Linked DNA regions of Homo sapiens. The main gene of each other region encodes a partner of the protein of the gene in region 3 in a complex. Each region holds a gene or a part of one and is shown on either strand. Other genes may lie near its edges. The genes, in order: PPP2R1A, MOB4, STK26 and YWHAZ.

Region 1 (7,030 bases), on a different chromosome or scaffold from region 3:
GGCCCATGCCACAATCATCCCCAAGGTCTTGGCCATGTCCGGAGACCCCAACTACCTGCACCGCATGACTACGCTCTTCTGCATCAATGTGAGCCTTCCACCTGCCTGCTGGCCCATCCCTAGGGAACTGGAGCGCGTGGGAGAGGAGGGATGCTAGAGGGTTCCCCAAGGGAGACACCTGGCTTGGGAATGGAGACATGGAGTGCATCTTCTATCCAGAGATGAGTCCTTGGGGAACTGCAGGCAAGGGGGTGGGGCTCCCAGGGTCAGGGTCATAGGGCCTCTGGGACTGGGGACTTGGATGGTGAGGGACCCAGGGCCTGGGAGACTTGACCTGTTGGAGCAGCGATCTCAAGCTTTATGAGCACCCCTCTCCTTCCCTGAGAAATGTGTGTCTCTATCTGTGGTGCGTTGGGTGAGTGTATGGGCTCTAGGTCAGACCTAGTTTTAAATTCTGGTACTGCCATATATTAGCTATGGACCTTGGATAGTTACCTAACCGATGCTTTGGTCTTCTCATTTGTAAATAATTCATACTGTAAAGAATTCATACTGGTAATCACAGCCTGGTGAGCGTGAAGATTAATCAGGTTATACACGCACAGGGCTTAGAACAGTTATGCTACAGGTAGGAAGTGCTCCTGTCTATTTGCTTTTCCTACGATTATAATTATCTCATGTACTACTTATTTATGTGTAAACCATACACAGGGCTAGAAAGGAAGGGATTTAAAAATAAATATAACTAAGTGTTCTGATCATTTCTTCCCACGCCACTCTCTGGAGAGCATTGCTTTAAGGAGGGATCCTAGGGCTTGGTAATTAAGGTCGATCTCCAGAATAATTAAGGGAAGCCTGAGGACAGAGAAACTGGGACATGGTGTTAGGATGGTGTTAGTGGAGTTGGGAGATTCACTCCACTAACTGAGTCACCCGTATTGCTCAGCCTCTGTGGGGCCTGATGATCACCAGAGTGGCCTGGTCAGAGGCAGCAGGAAATGAGAGTTAGCCAGGAGCTTTGCATACTCACCCCTGCCACTCACTGGCCCCCAGGTGCTGTCTGAGGTCTGTGGGCAGGACATCACCACCAAGCACATGCTACCCACGGTTCTGCGCATGGCTGGGGACCCGGTTGCCAATGTCCGCTTCAATGTGGCCAAGTCTCTGCAGAAGATAGGGCCCATCCTGGACAACAGGTGAGGTCTGGATACTCCCCCACACACTGGCAGGGGCTTCTTGTGGGCACCTTAATCTTTGACCTTTGAAGGTAGAGCCCAGGGTCAGAGGCCTGGCAGCGCTCCTTGCTTGCTGTGTGACCTTGGCTCCCTTCCCTTCTCAAGGTGTGTTTTCTCAACTGTAAAATGAACATCACAGCATGAAATAGAAAGAGGGGGTGATGGGTTGGCAGTCCTGTATACTAGCAACAAGTCATTAGAAAATGAAATCACCTTATGTTTTATATGTAAGTATGTGTATAATTTATAATTGCACCAAAAATATCAAATAGCCAGGAATAAATTCAATGAAAGATGTGTATGTAACACCTCTAATGTAAACTGTAAAACACTAATGTGAGAAATTAAAGCAGACCTGACCAAGGTGGGCGGATCAGTTGAGGTCAGGAGTTCACGACCAGCCTGGCCAACATGGCGAAACCCCGTCTCTAGTAAAAATACAAAAAATTAGCCGGTGCGGTAGCACTCACCTGTAATCCTAGCTATTTGGGAGGCTGAAGGCAAGAGAATTGCTTGAATCCAGGAGGTGGAGGTTGCAGTGAGCTGAGATCATGCCACTGCACTCCAGCCTGGGCGATAGAGCGAGACTGTCTCAAAAAAAATTAAAGCAGACCTACATAATATTCACGGATGGGACAGTTCCCTGAACTCATCTTTAGATTCAGTATAAGCCCAATAATCTTAACAGGTTCTTTAGTGGAAAATTGACACTTCTAATGAACAAAGTTGTCTGATTTACACTACCAGAGACGAAGACTTATGACACCACAATAATTAAAATAGATGTGAACACAAGCATATTTAAATCGCCCAATAGAATGGAATCAAGGGTACAGAAACAGTCCCACATGTGTTTAACAGTAGGCATCTCTGCAGTTCAGTGGAGAAATGTATGTTTTTTAAAAAACATAGCTGAGTCAATTTGATATCCATTTAGGAATAAAAGAAGGCTCGCCTCAATGCATAAACAAATTAATTTGAGATGACAGACCAGAACCAGAAAGATTTTAAAAATAAAGGACCTAGAAGAAAATGTAGGAAAATATCTTCTTGAGTTAGCGTAGGCACAGATTTGTTAAACAGCAAACCAGAGGAAGTGATGGGTAAGTTGACCTTCTGTAAAATGTAACGCTGTTTCTCAAAAGACAGCATTTTGAGAGTAAAATGCAAGCCACTGACTGGAGGAAGATGTTTTAATATATGTTTCTGAGAAAGGACTCATCCACAATACCTGTCTACAAATCAGGCAAGACAAGAAAGAGATGGGGAAAAAGACTTGAATAGGCACTTGAAAAAGGATCTCCAAATAGCCAGTAAGCATATGACAAGGGTGTTCAGCATCATTAGCCTTCAGGAAAATGCAAATTAAATCTCAGTGACATATGACTACACGCCTCCCAGAACAGCCAACATTAAAAAAGACTCAGTGGTGCAAATGGTGAAGACATAGAAGAGCTGGAACTCTCATCCATTGCACGTGGGGCTGTACATTTAGGGTTTGATCACTCTGAAAACGGGAGTGGATCTGGAGTGGAATTTGGTGAAGCTTGTTATACAAACAGCCTGTGAAACAGCCCTTCCACTCCTGGGTCTCTATCCAGGAGAAATGAGTGCTGTTTCTGTCAGAAGAATGTTCATGGTAGCTTTATTCATAGTAGCCGTAAAAATGGAAACAACCTCCATGTCTGTCCACAGTAGAGTAGATAAATTTTAGTTCATTCAAACAGTGGAAAACTATTCAGCAGTGACGAAACAAATGCCTGCTATAAGCAGCAACAGGTGACTCTCACAGATACCATGTTGAGTGAGGAGCCAAAATCAAGAAAACACACCATTTATGTCAAGTTCAGAAACAGGCAGAATGAAGGAATCGAGATGATGGAAGTAAGAATAGTGGTTATTTGGGGAGAACAGGGAACTGTCAACTGAAAGTGTGGGACCCACAACTGCAGATTTCTCTTTCTGTCTGTTCCAGGACACAACCTCAGCTTTAGTTTCTCTCCGAAGTCCCCCTCCGTTTTCCAAAACAATTGACTCTTGGTGCAGGCGGATTTCCCTGGGCCCCATAGATGAGAGTGGATGCCTCCTCTGGGCTCCTGGAGGACCAGGAACTTCCCCTTGGGGCCACTTACCACTCCCCTCTTACGTACCAGTTTGGTCTCTTCCTCCTGGCCCGGGTGCCTCATGGCAGAAATCAAGAGTGATTTAGCTCTGTATTCACTCCTAATACATTGTAGGCCTCAGTGAATATGTGTGAAATCAATGAAAGATACCCATTTGCTGGGCCTCAGAGACTTGGGGGTTCTGAGATTCTGTTCCACTTTCCCAGCCTGCTCTGATCTCCCTGTTTGGGGCCCCAGTCCTTGTTTATCATACTTCTGACCTTTAAGTAATTGGTTGGTTGGTTGGTTTTTTGCAGTTTGTTTGGTTTTCCTTTGAGGCAGAATCTCGCTCTGTCGCCCAGACTGGAGTACAGTGGTGCGATCTCGGCTCACTGCAACCTCTGCCTCCTGGGTTCAGGCAGTTCTTGTGCCTCAGCCTTTCAAGTAGCTGGGATTACAAGTGTGCACCACCATGCTTGGCTAATTTTTGTACTTTGAGTAGAGATGGGGGTTTTCCCATGTTGTCCAGGCTGGTCTTGAACTCCTGGCCTCAAGTGGTCTGCCCACCTTGGCGTCCCAAAGTGCTAGGATTACAGGCTTGAGCCCCCGTGCTCGGCCTTGAGTTTACCTTTTTTTTTTTTTTTTTTTTTTTGAGACGGAGTTTCGCTCTTGTTGCCCAGGCTGGAGTGCAATGATGCAATCTTGGCTCACCACAACCTCCGCCTCCCAGGTTCCAGCAATTCTCCTGCCTCAGCCTCCCAAGTAGCTGGGATCACAGGCGTGCACCACCACGCCCTGCTAATTTTGTGTTTTTAGTAGGGACAGGGTTTCTCCATGTTGGTTTGGCCAGGCTGGTCTCAAACTCCCAACCTCAGATGATCCACCCACCTTGGCCTCCCAAAATGCTGGGATTACAGATGTGAGCCACCACGTCCGGCCTGATTTTACTTTTAATTGACTCATAATTTTATATATTTATGGGGGTATAGTAGTGTTTCAATAATGTGTGCAAATGTGTAATGATCAAATTAGGATAATTAGCATATCTATCACCTTAAATGTTTACTGTTTCTTTGTGATGAGAACATTCAAAATCTTCTCTTATAGCTGTTTTGAAATATGCAAAATGTTATTATTAACTATGGTCACCCGCCTGTGCAGTGATCAGAGATTTCTAATTCCTGTGTGTGCCCTGGATTCTTGAGACTCCTCCCACCTTGGGTTTGGTGTATCCGTGTCTGTGTACACTCTCTTGCCCAAGAGCCCTGTGCCCACCTGTTGCCCCAGTCCATCCTGGCTCACCCTCTCTCTCCCTGTCTCCTTTCGCTTTCCAGCACCTTGCAGAGTGAAGTCAAGCCCATCCTAGAGAAGCTGACCCAGGACCAGGATGTGGACGTCAAATACTTTGCCCAGGAGGCTCTGACTGGTAAGACCTAGAAAGCACGGAGCCCTAGCAGGAGGGTGGACTTTGAGGACAGGCACTGGGCCTGTGGGCAGCAGCTTCTGGGAGGGGGAGGTACCTTGGCATTGTGGGCAGAGAGAGGGCTCTGGTTCTGATTCTTGCCTGTTCCTGTTTTCCTAGTTCTGTCTCTCGCCTGATGCTGGAAGAGGAGCAAACACTGGCCTCTGGTGTCCACCCTCCAACCCCCACAAGTCCCTCTTTGGGGAGACACTGGGGGGCCTTTGGCTGTCACTCCCTGTGCATGGTCTGACCCCAGGCCCCTTCCCCCAGCACGGTTCCTCCTCTCCCCAGCCTGGGAAGATGTCTCACTGTCCACCTCCCAACGGGCTAGGGGAGCACGGGGTTGGACAGGACAGTGACCTTGGGAGGAAGGGGCTACTCCGCCCACGTCAGGGAGAGATGTGAGCATCCCGGGTCACTGGATCCTGCTGCTGTAATGGGAACCCCTCCCCCATTTACTTCTCCACCTCCCGTCCTCCCCATCATTGGTTTTTTTTTGTGTGTCAACTGTGCCGTTTTTATTTTATTCCTTTTATTTTCCCCCTTTTCACAGAGAAATAAAGGTCTAGAAGTAGTTGGTCCTCTGGCCTTAGTCATCAGCTTGGAGGAGGGGGCACCACCCCAGAGCCACAACATCTGCGCTTTTCTCTGGAGAAGATCTTGTTACAGGACCCATTATACCCCTATGTCCCGAAAGAATACTCTGGGGATCCCCCCAGGAGTGCTGCTGGCCTTTGGGGTAGAGGGTCCATGAGGTGCTCTGGGTGGTGTCCTGTAGTGCAGTTCAGATTCATAGATGTCGGCCGAGTATTTGGGGGGTTAAGAGCAGGTGCCTTGGAACCAGACTGCCTGGGTCCAAATTGTGGCTCCTTCAGTTAATAGACGTGTGACTAGGAGTAGCTTGTTAAGTCTTTATGAGCTCAGTTTTGTATTGTGTAAAATGAGAGTTACAGTAATACCTAGATTGCAGGGTGGGTGGCGAGGACCAAGTGAATTAGTACCTGGAAAGTGTGTAACAGTTTCAACATGAGAAGTACACAACATGAGAAGCAGAGTTAGCTGTACATTGCCAGAGAACCCCCTGTGGGCCATTTCCTGTGTTCTTGAAGAAGACTTGGGCTTGGACCCTGTCCCCAGGAGGTCTCAGAGTAATCAGGACGGTACTAGGGAGAGAACTGTGGCAAGATAGATCAGTTATCTCGGTATCTATTCTCCCCTTCCTAATGTAGAAGCTCTGATTTTTAACTGGGCAGATGACTACATGGATTCAAGGTATTTTCCTAGTGTCTCTTGAAATTAGGTGTGGTATTGTGACCAAATTCTAGCCAAAAAGATGTTGAACAGAAGTGGTATATGCAGCTTCTAGGAAGTGTTCTTAAGGGGGAAGGCGTCATCCCCCACCTTTCCTCCTTCCTGCACTCTGGAATGTGGACCAGATGGCTGGAGTAGGAGCTGCCACCTGGGGCCAGAAAATGATCTTAGGCGTGAAGGTCAAGTAAGGCAGGACAAGAGAGAAGGAGCCTGCCTCCCCGAGGCTGTGAAGAGCCATGCCAGTACTGTCACCTGGGAGAATTAAACTGGTCAAGTGCCTGTTCGTTTAGGGTTTCATCACTTGAAGGTGACCGGAATTCTAACTGATGGAGGGAGGGGCCCAGAGCACCCTGGAGAAAGGAGCAAGGGACGTATGGCTGGTGGTGTCTGCATGGAAGGGTTTCACAGAGGAAATGATGCTTGAGCACATTTTGACCCAGGTGGTGGAAGGGAAATGTGGCTTTGAGTGACAAGGTGATTTCACCAGCTCAGCCTTCATATTACCACATCCCTACCCTTTGTTAGACTTTATTGTGCCCTAGGGGATGAGGCTGAAGGAGACCAAAAAGCATCTTTAGAAATTTCCATTTATGCCCTGGGCGATAAACTCTCTCCCAGTTGAGAACTACTGCTCTAGAAATGTGAACACACGTGTAACCAAACGTCAAAGTCTGACATTAAACTTTGACTTTCCCCATGGTTAACGCTGCTGGTCCATTGTAACAAGAGTGCAGTGGACCAGCAGCCTTTGCATTCTCAGGAGCTTGTTAGAAATGCAGAGCCTCTCGTCCCTGCCCCGACCTGCTCAGGCAGAGCCTTCATTTTAACAAGATGCCCAGGTTCATCTGCACACTGAAGTTAGAGAAGTCCTGCCTTAAATACTAACCCAGTTTTTCTCTCTTGAGAGTGAGGTTAATGCT
Region 2 (7,470 bases), on a different chromosome or scaffold from region 3:
CTAAAAATACAAAAAAAATTGGCTGGGCGCAGTGGCTCATGCCTGTAATCCCAGCACTTTCAGAGGCCGAGACGGGCGGATCACGAGATCAGGAGATCCAGACCATCCTGGCTAACACAGTGAAACCCCATCTCTACTAAAAATACAAAAAAAAATTAGTCAGACGTGGTGGTTAGCGCCTGTAGTCCCAGCTACTCGGGAGGCCGAGGCAGAAGAACAGCGTGAACCCGGGACGTGGAACTTGCAGTGAGCCAAGATCGTGCCACTGCACTCCAGGCTGGGCGACAGAGTGAGACTCTTGTCTCAAAAAATAAAATAAAATAAATAAAAATAAAAATAAAAATAAAATTAGCCGGGCGTGGTGGCAGGCACCTGCAATCCCAGCTACTCAGGAGGCTGAGGCAGGAGAATCACTTGAACTTGGGAGGCAGCGACTGCAGTGAGCTGCGATCGTGCCACTGCACTCTAGCCTGGGCGACAGAACGAGACTCTGCCTCACACACAAAAAAAAAAAACCTCCAGGTGCAATGGCTCACGCCTGTAATCCCACCATTTTGGGAGGCCCAGGCGGGCAGATCACCTGAGGTCAGGAGTTCGAGACCAGCCTGGTTAACATGGTGAAACCCAGTTTCTGCAAAAAATTAGCTGGGCGTGGTGGCACGCGCCTGTAATCCCAGCTACTCGGGAGGCTGAGGCAGAAGAATCGCTTGAACTCGGGAGGTGGAGGTTGCAGTGAGCCGAGATCGCACCATTGCACTCCAGCTTGGGGGCAACAAGAGAGAAACTCTGTCTCAAGAAAAAAACAAAAAAAAGAAAGAAAGAAAGAAAAAGAAAAAAGAAAACCAACTATGTGCCTATATTCCAGTCTAACCAACTTTTTTTTTAATGTAGGAAGATACTCCACCTACTCTCCTATAGTTTTTTGTTTGTTTGTTTGAGACCGAGTTTTGCTCTTGTTACCCAGGCTGGAGTGCAATGGCGCGATTCCGGCTCACTGCAACCTCCGCCTCCCGGGTTCAAGCGATTCTCCTGCCTCAGCCTACCGAGTGGCTGGGATTACAGGCGCCCGCCACCACGCCCAGCTAATTTTTTGTATTTTTAGTAGAGACGGGGTTTCACCGTGTTGGCCAGGCTGGTCTTGAACTCCTGAACTCAGATGATCCGCCTGCCTCCACCTCCCAAAGTGCTGGGATTACAGGCGTGAGCCACCGCACCCAGCCCTCTATTATAGTTTTTAATTTTTTTTCTTTTGACCCAATAGGGAAGGAGATACGGTTCTAAATATATCATTTTAGAACAGATCCATTTCACTAAACGAAATTCATGTGATAAACAAGATAGGACAAACTACGGCGTAAGCAGTCTTTTTCATTTTTTATCCTTTTTCTGTTATATTTTATCTAACAACCTTGATCCATGACAATGTGAAAAAAAAAGACAATAAGTTTTCTTCTATGTGACTTACAGCAACATAGCAAGTATGTTACGATATTAAATATTTTATTTTCTAACCTTTCAAAATTAAGAACTTATGAATAAATGAGATGACTCTCAGAATATGAACAGAAAAGTCTACTTCTGAACATAAAAATGTAATCAGAAACAATGTTTCCACAGAATAAGATGTAAAGGTATCTGAGAAAAGAGCATGAGGAAGAAAAGTGTGGAAACGGTAAAAAGCAAGCATATGTAACGGATAAATTTCCAGTAGTATGAAAACAAAACTGTCAGTAGGAATAACTGACAGCTTAATGTGACTCCAAAATAAGACTTTAAAATTTTCTCTGAAATTCAGCACTAGAAGCAGCTTGTTAAAGAGAACAGGTCACCAGTGAATTAAGAATCAGGAGACTATGTATCCTTGGGCAAATCCACTTAATTCTCTTGGGCTTCAGTTTCCTTATCTGTAACATGAATCTGGGGAGGTAATCAATACCTGTATGCCCCCTTCGAAAGGTGTTCTTTCCATAATTCTGTATAAGAAATTAAAATCTATTCTCAGACATACAATCATAGCTCCACGATTGTTTTGTTTCAATTTTCATTTGCATCACTTTTTAACATTTTATAAACACATCTCTTCCGATTTCAGAGCATCTAGTCTATAGCAAGCCATTTCGGCTAGCAATTAATCAGTTCAAGTCTGGATGCCAATTTTATTTATTTATTTTTAATGTGAGGCATCCCATCTTTTCCAAACCCTAAGAAACAATGCCTAATCAAGCACCAATTTACCACACATAATGCCCTACAAAAAAGCTGACAAAATTATAATCAGTTCATTCTCTGACTATGCTTCACGCATATTAGCAAGGAATGACATCTAACAAGTCACAACTTAGTGATGAAAACTTGCTGGACCAGAGAACAGCTCCAGGGAAAGCGGCAGGGAGAGGTGGTCAAAGGGAAACAAGGAGGAGAATATCGGCACCCGGATCCGGCTAGACAAGCTGGATGGCAGGAAACGGGTAGGTACTTCCCAGGCCAGGTAGGAACTGGACGCCGGGTCGAGGTAGGCTGTGTTTACACCCCCTCCCACCTCAGCGGCCCCGACCTTCAGGAAACCCCGGGGGTCTCCACCAGGCTGGTCGCGCCCCTCCAATGCTAGTCAGCTGGGGCTCAGGGGCAAGGCGAGAAGAAGCCGTTGCTGCTGACAGGCTCGCAGCCCAGGGCTTCGGCAGGCAGGTACCACCAGCAGACCCCACCCGCCCCTCACGCCTACCCCTGGGTCGGAGCTCCGCAGGCCTCACGGCGGCCGCCACCGCCTCAGCCAAATTGAGGGGCTGCAGCTCCGGAAGAGCAGGCCGGGCACCAGTGCCCCAGCCCGCCCGCCTGCCGCCTCGGCCCAACCTCCCCGCAGTGGCGGCCAGCTTCCGGGCGCAGCACTGCTCGGCACCTAGTTGCCCGACAAGAAAAGTGCAGACATGGTACCTGCGCCTTGGTGCCCGGCCTGTTCCGCCTCAGCACTGCCGTCCCCTCCGCCATGACCATAGTGCCAGCGTCTAGGCGGCTGGAGTCGGTACCCGGATGTAGGGACGGCAGCCTGCGCGGGGGGCGGGGCAGAGCGGCGCTCTGCGTCTGGGAGGAGGAGCGGCAGCTGACGGAACAGCTGCAGCCTGCGCCGGGAGCCGTCCGGGTAGAAGCGGGCTAGGCGGAGGGAGAGGGCGAACGAGGAACAGCCGGACGGCGTCGGGTGGCTACTGGCAGGGACTGAGGCACCGGAAGGCGGGCGCCACGAGCCTCTTTGCGAGGGCTGCGGGGCGGTTTGAAAGGTCGTGATCGCAGCGACCGCTGCGGCAGTGTGCACGGCTGCGTTGCACGTTGGTATGGGCTCTCGTTAGTTACACGGGAAGAACGAACTTCGTATAGTGGCGACCGTTTCAGTAAACCCACCTGCAAGCAAATACTTAGAGAACCGTAATTCTGTCCCAGAAGCCACCTAAGGAATCAGGGTAGAAAACAGGCCAGCAGTCTTGGCAAATTCTATAGAACCTGCGTGAAATCGACCCAATCTGAAATCAGACGGGGGATTTGAGTGTCAGTGTTATTTACGCCATCCGGCGACTTCAAAGCCAAGGACTTTTTCAATGACAAGTTTGTTTACGTAGATAAAAGACGCAGATGTCAATTATGTGAGATGAAGAGTGGACATCTGGTTTTGTGCGTTAGGCAGACAGATTTAGCTCGTGTTTTTCAAGTCAGAAGCAGGAGGAGGAAATTAGTAGTCCTTGACAGGTGGTGAGGGTTTTACATCTTACAGGATTCCACATTTCCTTTGTTGCAAATTTTAAGTGTTCTCTCTTAAGAAACCACAGCATTTTCGCAAACTTTTTTTCCTGCTTAGAAACCTTGAATCTTTTATCTGGGGTGAGGGAGGCCTTGGGATAGCAGATGGGAAGACAGTTCAAAAAGTAAAAAACGCATACAGTAGCATGATTTCCAAAAGAAGAAAACATCAAGTGTCCCTAGATAGAAGGTGTATTGAGAATGCTGAGGGAAGGGCCATGTAACAGCTTCCAGAAATGGAATTTGAGAGGAGAGGAGAGGTTGAGTGGGTCTCTAGCTGAGTAATTGTCAGTGACTTAGAACTAGGCATTGAAGGGTTTAACAACAGGAAGTTGGTTCTCTCTGGAAGATGTATTGACTGGTAACTCTTCAAGAATAGGGACTTAATTTTGCCCTCCCAGAACCAGCGTCTACATATGAAAAGATTATTCGTTCAACAGATACTCATTAAGCCCCACTATATGGTAGGCACTAATGTACAAGTATGATAAGGCTCAGTCCTTCACTACAAATTGCCTTGACTCCAGCAACAGAGACGTGCAAATCACAAATTCTTATACAGGTTAAGTACCCCTCATCTTAAAGTTTGGGACCAAAACACTTTCAGATTTCTGATTATTTTGGATTTTAGAATATTTGCATATACATAATGAGATTTCTTGGGGATGGAACCTAAGTTTAAATGTGAAATGCATTTGTTTCCTATACACCTTACACACATAGCCTGAAGTTACTTTTATACAATACTTTAAATAGGCCGGGAGCGGTGGCTCACACCTGTAATCCCAGCACTTTGGGAGGCTGAGGGGGGCAGATCACTTGAGGTCAGGAGTTCCAGACCAGCCTGGCCAACATGGTGAAATCCCATCACTACTAAAAATACAAAAATTAGCCAGGCGTGGCGGCAGGCGCCTATAAAACTTCAAATAATTTTGTGCGTGAAACAAAGTTTTGACTGCAACCGGTCACAGAAGGTCAGGTATGGAATTTTCCACCTGTGGCATCATGTGGATGTTCAAAGTTTCAGATTTGGGAGCATTTCAGATTCTGGACTTTTCAGATTATGGATGCTCAACTTGTATTAAATGCAACGAGAGCCTAGGACAAGTGACACGTAAATGTTGCCTCCCTTAGAGAGATGGGTTGGGTCTATGAGATAGCAGAGTCCCAGGGAGGCCTCTTGGTCTATAGATAACTCGCCTCACTTACTGCAAGGATTACGTTTACATTTCCCAGATTGTGTGATATTTCCCTGAGCTGTAAATAGTCACCTATAGTTGAATGGAATCATCTTCACTTTCTCTTAATTCCAGATTTGTTAAACTGTTTCAACCCATCTGAAACCAACAAAAAACGTGAATGAGTAGGTGTTAAATTCGGGAACAAAATGCACATTCGTTGTTTTTGAAAAGTCCAATAAAGTTGCATTCTGATGTCAACCCTGGCCTTGTTCATAGGAAGGACCTTGTTCTTTAGGGATAGAATGTTTCTAGCTCATAACCTTCACATTTTCATTCCTCTGTCAGCCTGTAGATTACGTACCTCCAAACAAGACAAATTTTATAACTAGGGTTAATTTGTCCGGGGTAGGAGGAGAGAGAAAAGAAAAACAAAAAGCATGATCAACAATAACAGTTACATGAAATACTTGAATATTTCAGGTAAAGGAGGAGTGGAGTGATCTGTTTAAAGGCAATATGCACCAGTAGGAATAGCTCTGGACTGGGATTCGGAAAATCTAGATTCTCTTGCCTGTTAACTGTTAAGACATTGAACAAGCTATCAAATAAATGTTTCTTCATGTGTAATGAAGATTGTGCATAGCAGTTCTTTCCCTCTGCCCCATAAAGTATGAAAGCAAGCATAAAATTAAATATGGAACCTTGAAGCTTTAGAAGAAAATATTTTATAAAGCCAAAGTATCATAAGTAATTTCAAATTATCCATGAGCTTCAAATCATTGACACATTAAAAAAAATTATCCAATAAAAATTCACTTTGGGGAATTTTTAAATCCAAATAAAAGAGTTAATGCAGGCCATGTGCGGTGGCTCAAGCCTGTAATCCCAGCACTTTGGGAGGCCGAGGTGGGCGGATCACGAGGTCAGGGGTTTGAGTCCAATGTGCCCAACATGGTGAAACCCCCGTCTTTTCTAAAAAAAAAAAAAATACAAAAATTAGCTGGGCACAGTGGTGTGCGCCTATAGTCCCAGCTACTCAGGAGACTGAGGCAGGAGAATCACTTGAACCCGGGAAGCGGAGATTGCAGTCAGCCGAGATTGAGCCACTGCACTCCAGTCTGGGCAACAGAGTGAGACTCCATCTCCAAAAAAAAAAAAAAAAAAGAGTTAATGCATATTATGTGCAAGGCACTGGGCTAAGTGCTGAAAAACATGAAGATATATAAGACAAGCTTTCCTCAAAGAGCCTTGAAATTAATGGGAAAGCATCTTATGTAGATTACTACAGTACAAGGCTGAACGCCTTAAGTATTGAAGCAGCCCCTTTCACATGCTCTTTGCAAACAGCCTCTGATCTTGCTCAGTGTTCTTCTCTCATGCTATGACCAGGGAAAGGTAAACCCATATCTAGCTGAGGGATAAATTCCTGTTGGCCTAAGTGTGAAAGGGCCAGCCTCTGTGGTTCACACCTGTAATTCCAGCACTTTGGGAGCCTGAGGTGAGAAGATTGCTTGAGCCCAGGAGTTCAAGACCTGCCTGGGAAACATAGTATAACCCCCCCCACATACACCCCCATCTCTACAAAAAAATACAAAAATTAGCTGGGCATGGTGGCACACACCTGTAGTCCCAGCTACTCAGGAGGCTGAGATGGGAGGATTGCTTGACGCTGGGAGTTCAAGGCTGCAGTGAGCCATGATTGCACCACTGCACTCCAGCCTGTGTGACAGAGTGAGATCCTGTCTCAAAAAAAAATAAAACAAAGAAAAGAAATGTGAAACGATGTAATGAAGCACTTTGGAGAAAGATTTACTTGCTCTTCAGAAGATACCAAAAGAGATGCTCTCTTTTTTCTGCCAATGGACATCACCCAATATGGGCCTGCAGCAGCCATTCTGGCTTAAAGGAAGCCAGTCTAAAAGCAAAGTTGGCACACTGTGAATGATGTATGTAGTTGTCATGTGTCTTAAAGTGTGGATAGCATTTATGTGCAGAGCTACAGGAGATTTCATTACAAGCCGAGCAAAGTTGAGGCAGCAGGGAAGCATGGGAATGTATATTCACAGTTGAACAAGTCAGTGCCTATGTATGGTTTCATACATCTTCAACGTATTATTTGAACATTATTCTCTGTCTGTTTTTTTGTTTTTTTTTTTTCTTGAGACAGAGTCTCACTCTATCGCCAGGTTGGAGTGCAGTGGCGTGATCTTAGCTCACTGCAACCTCCACCTCCCGGGTTCAAGCAATTCCCCTGCCTCAGCCTCCAGAGTAGCTGGGACTACAGGCGTGCACCATTATATTTTAGTAGAGACGGGGTTTCACCACGTTGGCCAGGATGGTCTCGATTTCCTGACCTTGTGATCCACCCGCCTCGGCCTCCCAAGTGTTGGGATTACAGGCGTGAGCCACCACGCCCAGCTTTTTTTTTTTTTTTTTAAGAGATTGTCTCACTTTGTTGCCCAGGCTGGTCTCAAACGTCTGGCCTCAAAGGATCCTCCTGCCT
Region 3 (7,205 bases):
GGAAGAGTTTGAACTGGACGAAATCCTGGGTTTTCTTTCTTCACTCCAAGTTTCTTTTCTATTTTAAACTAGTGGCAACAGCAATTTCTTTGTTTGAAAGTCAGGAATGCTGGAAATCTTAAGTGATAGAACAGGTAGCTGGGCTTCTACTTCACGTCTCTCCTCAGAGGGAGAAAATAATTGTGGATAAAGTAATTTTCTTTGTATTTCTGGAAAAATCATTTTTCCCATCAATCTTCATAATTCTCTAAAATAAACTGTTAAAAAGTTATAGGCTGGTCGGCTACCTCACCCTGATTTGTGGAAACACTATACAGTAATTTCAAGAACACATGGCTAACTGAAGTTTTCTAAAGGTCTAAAAGTTGCTCCTAACGCCTTCATAAAACTCTAGGAGAATTTTACAAGCTCACGATAGATTTCTGCATCTCATCTGCAATATTTTGCTACATAACAATAATAAAAATAGTCTAGCTTCAAGAGTCACACTGCATGCTATCAAATTTATTATTAAGGTATTGTACATTTTCAACTATGGAAAAAACTGTGTGCTGCACAAAGTGCTTAAGAACTACATTAGAAATAAAATGGAAATAAGAAGTTAAGAATTTACCATTTCATTAAGATGAAGAGAATGACCAAAAAAAAAAAAAAAAAAGATTCCTCTCTTCTTTGCTAACGTTGAGATGTTTGCCCTACTCAAATTAGGTGGGACAAAGTAATCACAACTCAGAGGGCACAGAGTGAAAGGCAGAATTTGTAATTTAAAGTATATGATTCACATTCGAATCCACATTAATTAAGATTTAAAAATTCAAGAGATAGGCAACTCAGATAATTAAAAGCAGGGAGCAATCAGAAATACTGAACAGCAAGCAGTTCCTAAACCATATAAATTCAATAAGTTCAAGACAAATAAAATAAAAATCAGAAACCATTTTCCCCTCAGCACACAGAGTTCCCCAGAATCACAAACTTGATGAACTGGAGGCACTCACTCTGCTGACGCACACACGCAGGCTCGCGCACACAATGGAGCGAGAAGCATGGAGACCCTCAGAGACAAACTTCACATGTGCATCGTTTTACTCTCCACAGAATGGAAAGAAGAGCACGGTGAGAAAATGTCACTTTTTCCCAGATCAAACAGCAAAACTGTACTTAGTATTGTGAACTATGAATTCCCTTGATACAATCAAAGGCAGAACTGAATGAATGGGGTGTGGGGCAGGGTGCGTGGGGAAAAGAAGGAGGGAAGGAGAGGGGAGGCCGCCTGAGAGGAAGAAAGTTTAAGGCATTTTGCAAGGCTTGAGTGGATTAATCTTTTTTTTTAAGCCCTACTATTTCCTATTTCCCTTTCTCTCTCTCTCTTTATTTAATATACACTAACTTCCTGAGACTCAACCCAGACTTGCCCTAAATGCAGCTGAAATGTCTGGTGTTTAGGACACACCAAGAGTTCTAGGTGCACAAATAAATCCCATTTTGGGAAAGAATTTAAAAATCACTTTTGTGGACATTCATAAAATGAGAACACTGAAAAAAAAAAAAAAACTCCATGTATCAATAAGTAAATTGAGGCCCCAGTCTACAGCTCTTTGATTTCTACTAGAAATATAAGCTATTTACTATAAACATTTTATTTTTGAACTTCAAAAAAGTTTGTTTTCACATTTTAGATCATGAAAGACTGAGGCTTCAGTGGTTTTAGCCCCTAAATGGGTTGTTTAGGCCATCTAGCAAAGGAAAAAAAAATAGAACATGAATGCTTTAAAAAGTTAGTAAATTTGGATAACACTTAGCAGATAGCCTAAAATGCACCGATTTAAAAACATAACAGCATAAAAAGTTTTCTGACATAGCTTATCTTTAATAAAATGAAAATATAATGGGAGGGGGTTGGGCTGGGTAGACTTCGAGTAACAAGTTGGGTCCCATGCAGTAGTCCCTTGTCCAAGACAAAAAGCTTCCTTTAACCACATGTAACAGTCATCTTGTGGGAAAGGCACGGAGGGGGCTGAGAAGTCATCACCTCAGTGACTCTGAACAGAACCAGCATTTCTCACGCCACACTATGGGCTGGGCTAGGTCGGGGAGCAAGCTACAACTTTGCCCTTAAGCAGCAGTACCGAAAGGGAGAAAGAGGTCACCTCTCTCTTAGCCCTACGCACACAGGAAGAGCCCAATTCAAGCCGCCGCCGCCGCCACCCCTGGTGTTGCCCCGCCCCAACTTGAGTGTGTGTTTGGGGTGGGGGGTGTAGGGCACTCACTACTCGCGTTATACCCCACAAATTCCAAGGCACTTCCATCTCTCCCAGGTTAAGTTCCGCCCCCCCATCCCCAACCGTGCCAAGCTCAGCAGGCGCAGGTGTCTGTGGCTCTGGCCTATTTTTATACCCCCAACCGCCCTCAATCTCCACCTAGTTGCGCGCTCCAGTCCCGCCTCGCCTTCCCAGCGAAGAGCACTACCTAGCCTACACACCAGGAAACACCTCCAGCCCTACTCCCAGGTCACCTGGCCATAGTGACCGGCCCTGCCCTCAGGGGAGCCCTGGGGCCGTCCCTTGTCGCCGGTGCCCAGCACCGAGGGCGCACCGGGCTCCCAAGCAGTCACGTGGGCGGCGGGGGCGGCCTGCGCTTCCTCACCTGCATCCCAGGCACTTGGACAGCCACCGGCGAGTGGGCCATGGAGGCGAATGCTGCCTCGCTCCGCTTCTGCGGCGGTGGCGCCTTGGGTTCGGACTGGCTCCTCCCTCCGGGGGTAGTTCGGCGGCCCTCCCAGGCTTTTCGATCGGGGCCTGGGAGGACACACAAAAGTGGGGTTACTGGGCTGGCGGCGCGTAGCCCGGGGCTAGGAGGTGGGCTGTTAGCGGCGCAGCTCCCTGGGACTCAGTCTACCTTTCTGGCGCCCGCCCGCCGCTGAAGCAGCCGCCTCCGCTGCTGCTCCTCTTCCTGAACGCCGAGCGCTGTGAGTGGTGGTGGCTGGGACCTGGGCTCGAGTGATGCCGCTCCTCTGCGCCTCGCCGCTTTAGGAAGAGGAGGTGGAGGCGCCCCAGCCACCCGCCTGCTCGCCTGGCCTGGGAGGCGGTTGGGGGCGGTTCCGCCGTTGGCCCTGCCCCCGCCCCGCAGCCGGGCGGTGTCGCGGGAGCCAAGGCTCCAGGCAGCGAAGAGGTTTGGCTGGGGTTGCTGGAGTCTGAGAAGCTGGAGACTCTCCCGGCACGCGGAGAGGAGAACCCGGGGACCCGGAGACCTGGGACATGGCTGGGCCTGGGAAGAGAATGGAAGAGTTTGGGAAACCCTGAGGGTATGAGGGCGCCCCAGATGCGGCCACGTTGCAGGGAGGCGTGCGAGGCTGGGGCACACGCAGCCTCGGAGACGACTTGAGCTGAAACTTGGGGAGTGTTGGAAGTCTTTCTTGGCTCCCCGGCCTGGCCAAGGGTAGGATTACAGATAGCCGCGGAGTCGGTGGACCCCCGCTTTTTCCCGCCATCTGGTCTCCTCAGCTGGGGGTCGCGCCTCTGGGCAGATCTGTGGCCACACTCTTGCTTTCCGAGTTCCCTGACCCCAAACATGCTTCAGGTGACTTCAACTTAAGGTTCCCCCTACCTCCTGGGCTATCCCTTGCAGAACGGCCAAACTAGGGCTTCTCTCTACCACAAGTTCTGCACGTGTAAGGCAGAGGGAAATTGGAAAACAGATGGTACATCGGCAGAAAAATTAATGAGGATAGTAGAGGCTTGGGAAATGAGATTGGATCGTTAGCAGTACAGGTTATTGAAATCAGCATACACTGCAGTGGTTTTGGTAACTCCCTGCCTCCGCCCCATTTTAAGTTCTACTCCAGGAGAGGGAGACAGGCTCTTTTGAGAGTACTCTAACAGTAGCGACAGTAACACTGGTAATAATAGTAACAGGAATTTCATTATGAAGGCACCTTTGGGAACACGTAAGGGGTTAATTACTTTTTAAAAAAGTAATAGTCGAGTGCCAGTTTAAAATGAAGATGAAGTTCCTTACCTTGAAATTTGTTATGGGTCTCTACGCACCACACGGTGGGGGGCCTCTAGTGGTAAAAGATAGTTTCTCTTCTTCCTTTTAAATCTTTTTCAGAGAATAGTATATAATTCTTATCAATATCGTTATTATTAATGGATATTATTTTCATTGTGCCAGGGACTGCTAAGTGCTTTCTATGTGTTATTAATACCTTACTGAACCTGTACAAGGGCCTTCTGGAGTCTTATTGATTTCCCCTCATTTTACAGATGAAGAAAAAGGCTCAACCAGGTTAAATAATTTGACCGAAATGTCACGCAATTAAGAAGTGGTACAGCTGGGAATTCAGACGCAGGTCCCTCTGACTGGTGATAAACTTACTACTTTCTCTATGGTTTCTGTTTGTGTTTAATGATGATAAAAGGTACAATTGCATTTTCCTTACTCCTAGTTCCCCAAGTCCAGCCCTTCACTATTTCTAACCTAATGTTAGGCTCCAATCTAGTCTCGATTTCCCACCAACCCAGCTCACAACATTGCCAGCCTGACCGGAAACCTGCAGTGCCACCTAAACTTTTAATGTCCATAGAAATCCGAGGGTTCTTTTGCTCCCTCAAAAGCGCAGATTTTTATCTCCCATGTCTGGACTGGGCCCAAGATTCTGCAATGCTAACAAGCTCTCACATGGTGATGATGTTTAGATCACACTTTTAAGTCGCAAGGGTCTGAATCAAGCTCCATCATTTAAGACCTGTCTCAAATCTCACCTCCATTGACCCTTCCTAGTTGCTCCAAGCCCTCCTTCAAACTCCTCCAATGTGAGCAGCGCTCACACTGTAGTTCTTTCTTCTTATTTCATATATTTCATTTGTTTTGTGTGCCCATATTAGGTCCTTGAGGGCAGAGATCCAGCCTCTCTTACATGAGAATGATTCAGGTAGGATGGCAGGAGTCTGAGGGCAAGCTTTTTATACATTTTGTCCATTGCTGTATCCCCAGAGACTAGGTTCATGGCATGTAGTAGGCCCTCAATAAATAATTGTTGAATGAATGAATGAACTTCTTTTGAATTCTCCACTGAGGTTACTAGGTGCATAATGTATACACTATATATTTTATTGATGTCAGGTTAAACCCCTAGGCATTGCCCTTACTGAACATTTAAATTGTTCAGTTTATTGTGTGTTACATCTTTCATTATTTAGTCTCCAAAATTCTTTCCTGCTAGTTTAATTTCACAACTACTTATGAGCCAGTTGTATAATTTTGATAGATAAGTAAATTAAGCATATCAGAGAAATGACTTTCTCTGACATCATTCTGGGCCAGAGTTATGTAACTATGTGGAAGAATAAAAGCTTAATGCTGAGACCTGGAATATTGAGACATTTCCTGAAAGACATTGCATTTGAGATCTTAGTGAGCTTTTTAGCCTTTATTTAGGTTTACTGCTATTAAATAAAGCATCAGTTGTTGTTATAATTGATAGAGATCACTTGAGTTTTTACATGGGATTGCTTGTGGGCTTTTAAATGATTTTTCCTGTGTGTGTGTGTGTGTGTGTCTGTGTCTGTGTGTGTGTGTGTATCTATAAATTAAATCTTGTGAAGGTGTCAACATTTGAAAACAATTCAAATTTTATGAGCATTAGAAACTTTTTTTCCACTTTGAACTGGATTATTTCTCAAATTCTTAAATAAAATGACAAGAAATTCAAGTACGCTTTTGTTACACACACACACAAAGGAAACTTAAATATTTTACTTCAAATTGTCAGCCCAGGCCAGGCGTGGTGCCTCACCCCTGTTCCCAGCACTTTGGGAGGCCGAGGCGGGCAGGTTACCTGAGGTCAGGAGTTTGAGACCAGCCTGGCCAACATGGCGAAACCCCATCTCTACTAAAAATACAAAAATTAGCTGGACATGGTGGTGTGTGCCTGTAATCCCAGCTACTCTGGAAGCTGAGGCAGGAGAATTGCTTGAACCTGGGAGGCAGAAGTTGCAGTGAGCTGAGATCATGCCACTGTACTCCGCCCTGGGCCACAGAGCGAGACTCCATCTCCAAAAAAAAAAAAAAAAAAAAGTCAGCCCAGAGTCTGAAAATATATTACAGTGTATTCCCGTAGTTTAATGGAAAACGTTTCTTGAGGAGAGACACAACTTATGCTTTTTGGTCACACGTAGAGTGTAACATAGCACCTCAGAAAGGATTTGGTACCTGCTTGATTGATGTGATCTGAATGGCTGTGAATACTTAATAACCATATAAATAAAATAAGATTATACACAGATTAGGTAAGGTTTTGAGTAACATTATACACAGATTAGGTAAGGTTAGTGAATTTCAAGTTAGACAGTGTTCTTGAGGCCTCAAAACTTAATAATTTACATTTGGCACCTGGTTTCAATTTCCTGACATTTGTCATACCCTCTATTCAGGTTGAGTATCCCTTATCCAAAATGCTTAGGACAAGAAGTGCTTCAGATTTTGGATGTTTTTGGAGTTTGGAATAATTGCATATACGTAATATCTTGGGTATGGGACACAAGTCTGAACATTAAATTCGTTTATGCTTCAGATACACCTTATATACATAGCCTGATGATAGTTTTATACAATATTTTTAATTTGTACATGAAACAAAGTTGGTATACATTGAACCATCAGAAAGCAAAGGTGTCAGGTATGGAATTTTCTACTTGTGATATCATGTCAGCACTCAAAAAGTTTCCAATTTTGGAGCATTTTAGATTTCAGATTTTCAGATTAGGGATGCTCAACCTGTATTAAATATTTAACTTTACCCATGTTTACAAATATTTACTGAATTGACTGGTTCTTAGCTAAAGTGTAGGTAGATGGAAATAGCCAAACTTTAATACAGGCGGCAGTGAAATAAGGGCATGTTTTTCAACTAGGACCAATTATGCCTTCTGGAGAACATTTCTGGGTATCACAAATAGGCAGGTAGGTGCTACTGGCATCTAGAGAGTGGAGGCCAGGGATGCTGTTAAACATCTTACGACGCACAGGGCAGTCCCCACAAGAAAGAACTATTCAGTCCACAATGTCAATAATGATAAGGTTTGAGAAACCATGCTCCGCACTTTTTGCATTAGGAGCTACTAACCAAGAAACAGACTTGAAAATCATTGTTCTCTGAAGATTTTAGCTCAGTGTTGTGGCTGGGACCAAATAAAGAAAAGACT
Region 4 (5,028 bases), on a different chromosome or scaffold from region 3:
TAGGCATTTAAAACGAGTTCCCCTCGGGAGTCTAGACATAGCCTATTTTTTATACTCCCACATAGCCCCCAAACCCAAACCTACAAGCACATGTTAAGTTCTTAATTCCCTGCATCTTGATTGTGCTGTATATCCATTTGGGTCCCATTCTGCAAATCTTCACTCAAACATGAATCTCTAAGCGCCCCCCGCCCTTTTTTTTTTTGACAGAGTTTTGCTCTTGTTGCCCAGGCTGGAGTACAATGGCATGATCTTGGCTCACTGCAACGTCCGCCTCTCGGGTTCAAGCAATTCTCCTGCCTCAGCCTCCCGAGGAGCTGGGATTACAGGCACGCACCACCATGCCCGGCTAAATTTTTTGTATTTTTAGTAGAGATGGGGTCTCACCATGTTGGCCAGGCTGGTCTCAAACACCTGACCTCAGGTGATCCACCCGCCTCAGCCTCCCAAAGTGCTGGGATTACAGGCGTGAGCCACCACACCCAGCCAGAATCTCTAAGCCTTTGTAAGAAAACACACAGAACAGCAGCTGGCCAAAGCAAACATCCAATGTTAGAAAATGTAAGCACAAACTGAAAATTCATAGGGTTTTAAATTCTAAAATTCGGAATACTAAGAAGTAATCAATTAAGACCAGTTAGGTTTGGACTTTCAAGGAATGAACTCAAATATGATCAAATATTCACATCTCTGGTATCACCTAGGATTGGCTAACATTATGCTTAAATATATTAACTTGTAACTGCTTCTGCATCCCAGAGACATATATGCCTGCTTGTCTGGCAAGGTTGGACATCCTGTTACAATCTATATTCAGGTCTCTCCACTTTGAAAAGGAACTAGAATCAATCAAGGAGACTGTGACTACTACCAGTCACATAAAAGTATTTAATTAGTTTCACACTTAGAAAAGAATCCAAGTCTATTTTCCAAGTGCCCAGTCTCAGCCACCACTTTACTATTGTACATATTTTCAGTTCTACCATAGTATTTCCTATATGGTAAATGAGAGAATACAATCAAGCCAAATTTATTTCTTGACCTTTCCCTAGAGGAATGTGTAAGACCATCATTGAGCATAGAGCACCAGTTTTCAAAGTCAAAGTTTCACTCTCCATTTGAAGCCTGACTACAAATAACCTAAGATAGCAGCTTCCAAATTGGCTTTGACTCATTTTAAAATATGCATTGAGCCATGACAAGACTGGTGACTCTTTTGCAGGAAAAACATAATAAACAAATTGAGCCCCAAAATTAAGCCACTAGACATATTCTTTCTCTTTCTCCCCCCACCCCCTATAACAGCATGAAGTAACAGCTGTTAACTGGAAAAACAAAGACCATAAGCCAGAGCTGCAGGAAAGCCCATCGTTTTTACTAATCACACTGCTGCTCCACTTTCTGAAGGACAACTCTTAAGTGGCCAATTTAAAAAAAACATACCAGGGTGGGCACAGTGGCTCACGCCTGTAATCCCAGCACTTTGGGAGGCCGAGGTGGGCGGATCACAAGGTCAGGAGAATGAGACCATCATGGCTAACACGGTGAAACCCTCTCTCTACTAAAAATACAAATAATTAGCCAGGAGTGGTGGCACATGCCTGCAGTCCCAGCTACTTGCGAGGCTGAGGCAGGAGAATCACTTCAGCCTGGGAGGAGAAGGTTGCAGTGAGCCGAGATCAGGCCACTGCACCCCAGCCTGGGCGAGAGTTGACACTCCGTCTTAAAAACAAACGAACAAAAAAATTCCAGTACTTTACACACAAAAAGTCATTGGATTTTCCAATTTCCTGGCACTAGGATGTTACATTGACAAAAGCAGACGTAAAGCCTGGATTTGGGACAATCAAGGAATAGTTACAAACACATTATTCAAATTCCAAAACAAAGAATCTCAGGTTGGAAATTTTCCTTAATCTATTGGGAACTACTATGTAGAAAACATTAGTTAATACTAGTGAAGTGTTTTCATTATTCCAGGATCAACCTAGTTCAGATGACTGATGCACATTAAATAGGCAAATGTGCCAAGTTTCAGGTTTTATTTACTTGAATAATATCACATCTCTACTGGGCGCGGTGGCTTATGCCTGTAATCCCAGCACTTTGGGAGGTTGAGATGGGCGGATTGCCTGAGGTCGGGAATTCAAGACCAGCCTGGACAACATGGTGAAACCCTGTCTCTACTAAAAACACAAAAATTAGCCAGGTGTGGTGGCGGGCACCTGTAATCCCAGCTACTTGGGAGGCTGAGGCAGGAGAATCGCTTGAACCCAGCAGGCGGAGGTTGCACTCAGCCGAGATCGCACCACTGCACTCAAGCCTGGGTGACAGAGCAAGACTCTTGTCTCCAAAAAAAAAAAAAACAACAAAAAAATTCCCACCTCTTCAGTCTAGCTATAAAATATAATTACTTTATATATATATATATATATATATATATATATATATAATTATTTTACCTCCTTGGCTTGGGGGTCAGGAGAAATCAGTAAGTGAGGTAAAAGAAAGAGCTGCGAGGGAAAAGGATTGTTGCCCTAGATGCAGAAGGTATCTTTTCTCCTGGAAATAAAGACCCCAAGGTCTCCATTGCACTTTTATTTGAATGTAATATTTGGGACAATTATTCAAAAGGGCCAATATTTCCCAATTTAATCTGAGGTCATAATAAAACAAGCAACAAAACAGTGTTTGGGATTTCAGTTTCTCACCCTTATCATCAAGACTCACTGCCTCCCATCATCAATATTTATTGAGCATTTACAGTGTACTAGGCACAATAGAACATACAGAAAACATTGTCCCTGCTCTTGAGGAGCTTACATTCTAAAAGAAAAAATACACCTTTTTTAAAATGGCATTTTTGTTTGGTGTTTTCTGCAAAGTACTGAGGAAATATTTTGTAAAGTGAGCTTTGGGTATAACTTAGCCCCATCATTATTTAGAGAATAGAGGAGGAAGAAAGAGGAAGGATTTTAAAGGCAGACAATGACAGACCATTCAGGATAGGTAGGGTTTTAAAGGGAGATAAACACAGTCTCATCAACTAAGGAGAGATTTGCTGCAGTAAATAGGATGAGGGAAATAGTCTGTGGGATGCAAGCAAAGGAAGCAGGGTGCCTTAGACACTGAGTGGAGCCAGAAAGATCATGCGGCCTTTTTCCAAGTACATGGCCACCAAGTAAGAATGGTTGGTGACAAGACAGAAGGCTAAAACAGGAAGGTAATCTTGTGCACCTGACAAATAGAAAGAATAAAGGATCAAAATTGAAGGCAGGCTATAAGAGTATCAAGAAATTCTTAAAAACCAAAAAGTGATTTGGAAGCACAAAACTTACAGTTAATGCTACCCAATGTCATGATGGGCCAAGAACATTGTGGCTTCCTAAGTTAGAAAATGCCATATGCCAAAATTTTAAATGGAACACACTACATTTTTTTCTAATCAATCCCCCCCTCTCCCAGAAAAAATAGGAACTCATTTTTTTCAGGGTGGGGAGGAAGAGAGGGGATCATGGGACATGGAAACAGTAGTTATATTAGTAGTATTTTTGTTATGATAAATTTTGTGTTTAAACTTGGTAAGAGCCCATTAGCTGCCAAGAGGGAATAAGGAATAAATTTCAAAAAATGTACAATTTCCTTTAGAGAAGTTTCAGAACCAAGACTAATTTACATGAAAAGCTGTAGAGAAAGTAGTTGAAAAGTCCATTCATAAAACTTTTATTCCACTTACATGAATTTAATACACGTGTTCTTAACAATTATGCTTGGATTGTTCATGAAAATTTCATAAGACATTAAACAAAGCTAGCCATCATCTCAAGTTATTTCCCTGTTAACTATTTTTACAGCACATGCATGTTAGGCAAGTATCAAAAAAAAAAAAATCACAAAAGCAAAAATCCTAAAAAAAAGTTAAATACATGGGTTTTTGTTTTACTGCTGTGCTTGATATACATGAAGTAATGAATACCAAGCAATTCATTTTTCCTGCATCTTTACTTTTACATTTGTTCTTAGGTTGCCTAAAACATTTAAATACAAATAAAATGAGTGTAGCAAAAATAATGAAAGCTAACAGCAGGTAACTTTACAAATAATGGAATGTGAACCGTTTCTGCCCTTATCCAGAGTAAAATGGGTCACAACTTTGTCTAAAGGAACACTTCTGCAGCTGTAGTCAAAGGTGTACACATTGAGTATTCCACAGATATACATGGTTTAATATGTGGTATCCATGGGGTATGATTCTACCACAGCCTTGTAAGTGCTCCAAACCTTAAAGTACCCACAATTACTACACCTGTGACTGGAACCAATGATCCCTTTTATTCCCCGCCAGGACAAACCAGTATGTAGGCAGTTTTCTTTGCTTAGACATGGAAGCAGTTTTACACTGGCCCTTTTGAAGCCACAATGTACCAAAAGTACTATGCCAAACACTTATAACTTGTATAAAAATTCCACATCCCCATATTGGCCACCTCAAGATGAAAACAGATAACTCCCTAAATGTTAACTGGCTCTACTCCCCTAATATTAAACATAAAAACCACATGGGAAATATAGAAATTCAAATAGAAGTAACATAAACCTGTCATAAATCGTAAACAAAAAACTATTTGTGGGACAGCATGGATGACAAATGGTCTACTGTGTAAATTTTAGAATGAGGCAGACAAAAGTTGGAAGGCCGGTTAATTTTCCCCTCCTTCTCCTGCTTCAGCTTCGTCTCCTTGGGTATCCGATGTCCACAACTGGTAAAAGAAGGAAAGATTTTTCAGCAAGTTTCAGTGGGATGGGGGGGGGGGGGCGTTTTCATATAAGTGCCAAGATACCTGAATGTTTTAGTTGGAAAGCATTCTTAAAAAGATAGCAGCATCACTTAGCTTCAAGATACAAAAACATCTCAATATACAAATTTACTTTTTTTGTAACCACTATATAAGCAGGTTAAGTACACCACAGAGTTGCCTTCAAATAACCTTCAGATACAGGAAAGTTTTGGTTATCCACAGAAGGTGA

What was found.
Region 1: STK26 (region 3) and PPP2R1A share a complex: the UniProt entries of both Homo sapiens proteins name them as parts of the core of STRIPAK complex.
Region 2: the proteins of STK26 (region 3) and MOB4 are in contact, whole or in part, in a crystal structure (PDB 5YF4), measured with the Homo sapiens proteins. Residues at the interface, in NP_057626.2 of Homo sapiens: Phe326, Thr327, Thr328, Val329, Arg330, Lys331, Lys332; in NP_056202.2 of Homo sapiens: Gln99, Gln105, Trp106, Ile107, Phe108, Leu109, Ala111, His113, Lys114, Thr115, Pro116, Glu118, Tyr124, Arg161, Arg162, Arg165.
Region 4: the proteins of STK26 (region 3) and YWHAZ are in contact, whole or in part, in a crystal structure (PDB 5XY9), measured with the Homo sapiens proteins. Residues at the interface, in NP_057626.2 of Homo sapiens: Arg316, Glu317, Asn318, Asn319, Thr320, His321, Pro322, Glu323, Trp324, Ser325; in NP_001129171.1 of Homo sapiens: Lys49, Asn50, Gly53, Ala54, Arg56, Arg60, Lys120, Arg127, Tyr128, Leu172, Asn173, Val176, Tyr179, Glu180, Asp213, Leu216, Ile217, Leu220, Asp223, Asn224, Leu227, Trp228.

The regions. Positions count from the first base shown.
Region 1 is NC_000019.10:52,221,046-52,228,075, forward strand, and holds part of PPP2R1A (serine/threonine-protein phosphatase 2A 65 kDa regulatory subunit A alpha isoform), read left to right. Parts: coding exon 1-88; intron 89-974; exon of another isoform or gene 975-1,053; coding exon 1,054-1,196; intron 1,197-4,671; coding exon 4,672-4,763; intron 4,764-4,919; coding exon 4,920-4,936; 3' UTR 4,937-7,030. UniProt on the Homo sapiens protein: The PR65 subunit of protein phosphatase 2A serves as a scaffolding molecule to coordinate the assembly of the catalytic subunit and a variable regulatory B subunit.
Region 2 is NC_000002.12:197,511,608-197,519,077, reverse strand, and holds the start of MOB4 (MOB-like protein phocein), read right to left. Parts: upstream 3,013-7,470; 5' UTR 2,992-3,012; coding exon 2,932-2,991; intron 2,781-2,931; exon of another isoform or gene 2,723-2,780; intron 1-2,722.
Region 3 is NC_000023.11:132,019,101-132,026,305, reverse strand, and holds the start of STK26 (serine/threonine-protein kinase 26), read right to left. Parts: upstream 3,005-7,205; 5' UTR 2,899-3,004; intron 2,799-2,898; 5' UTR 2,689-2,798; coding exon 2,647-2,688; intron 1-2,646. UniProt on the Homo sapiens protein: Serine/threonine-protein kinase that acts as a mediator of cell growth. Modulates apoptosis. In association with STK24 negatively regulates Golgi reorientation in polarized cell migration upon RHO activation.
Region 4 is NC_000008.11:100,915,993-100,921,020, forward strand, and holds the end of YWHAZ (14-3-3 protein zeta/delta), read right to left. Parts: intron 4,761-5,028; coding exon 4,701-4,760; 3' UTR 531-4,700; downstream 1-530.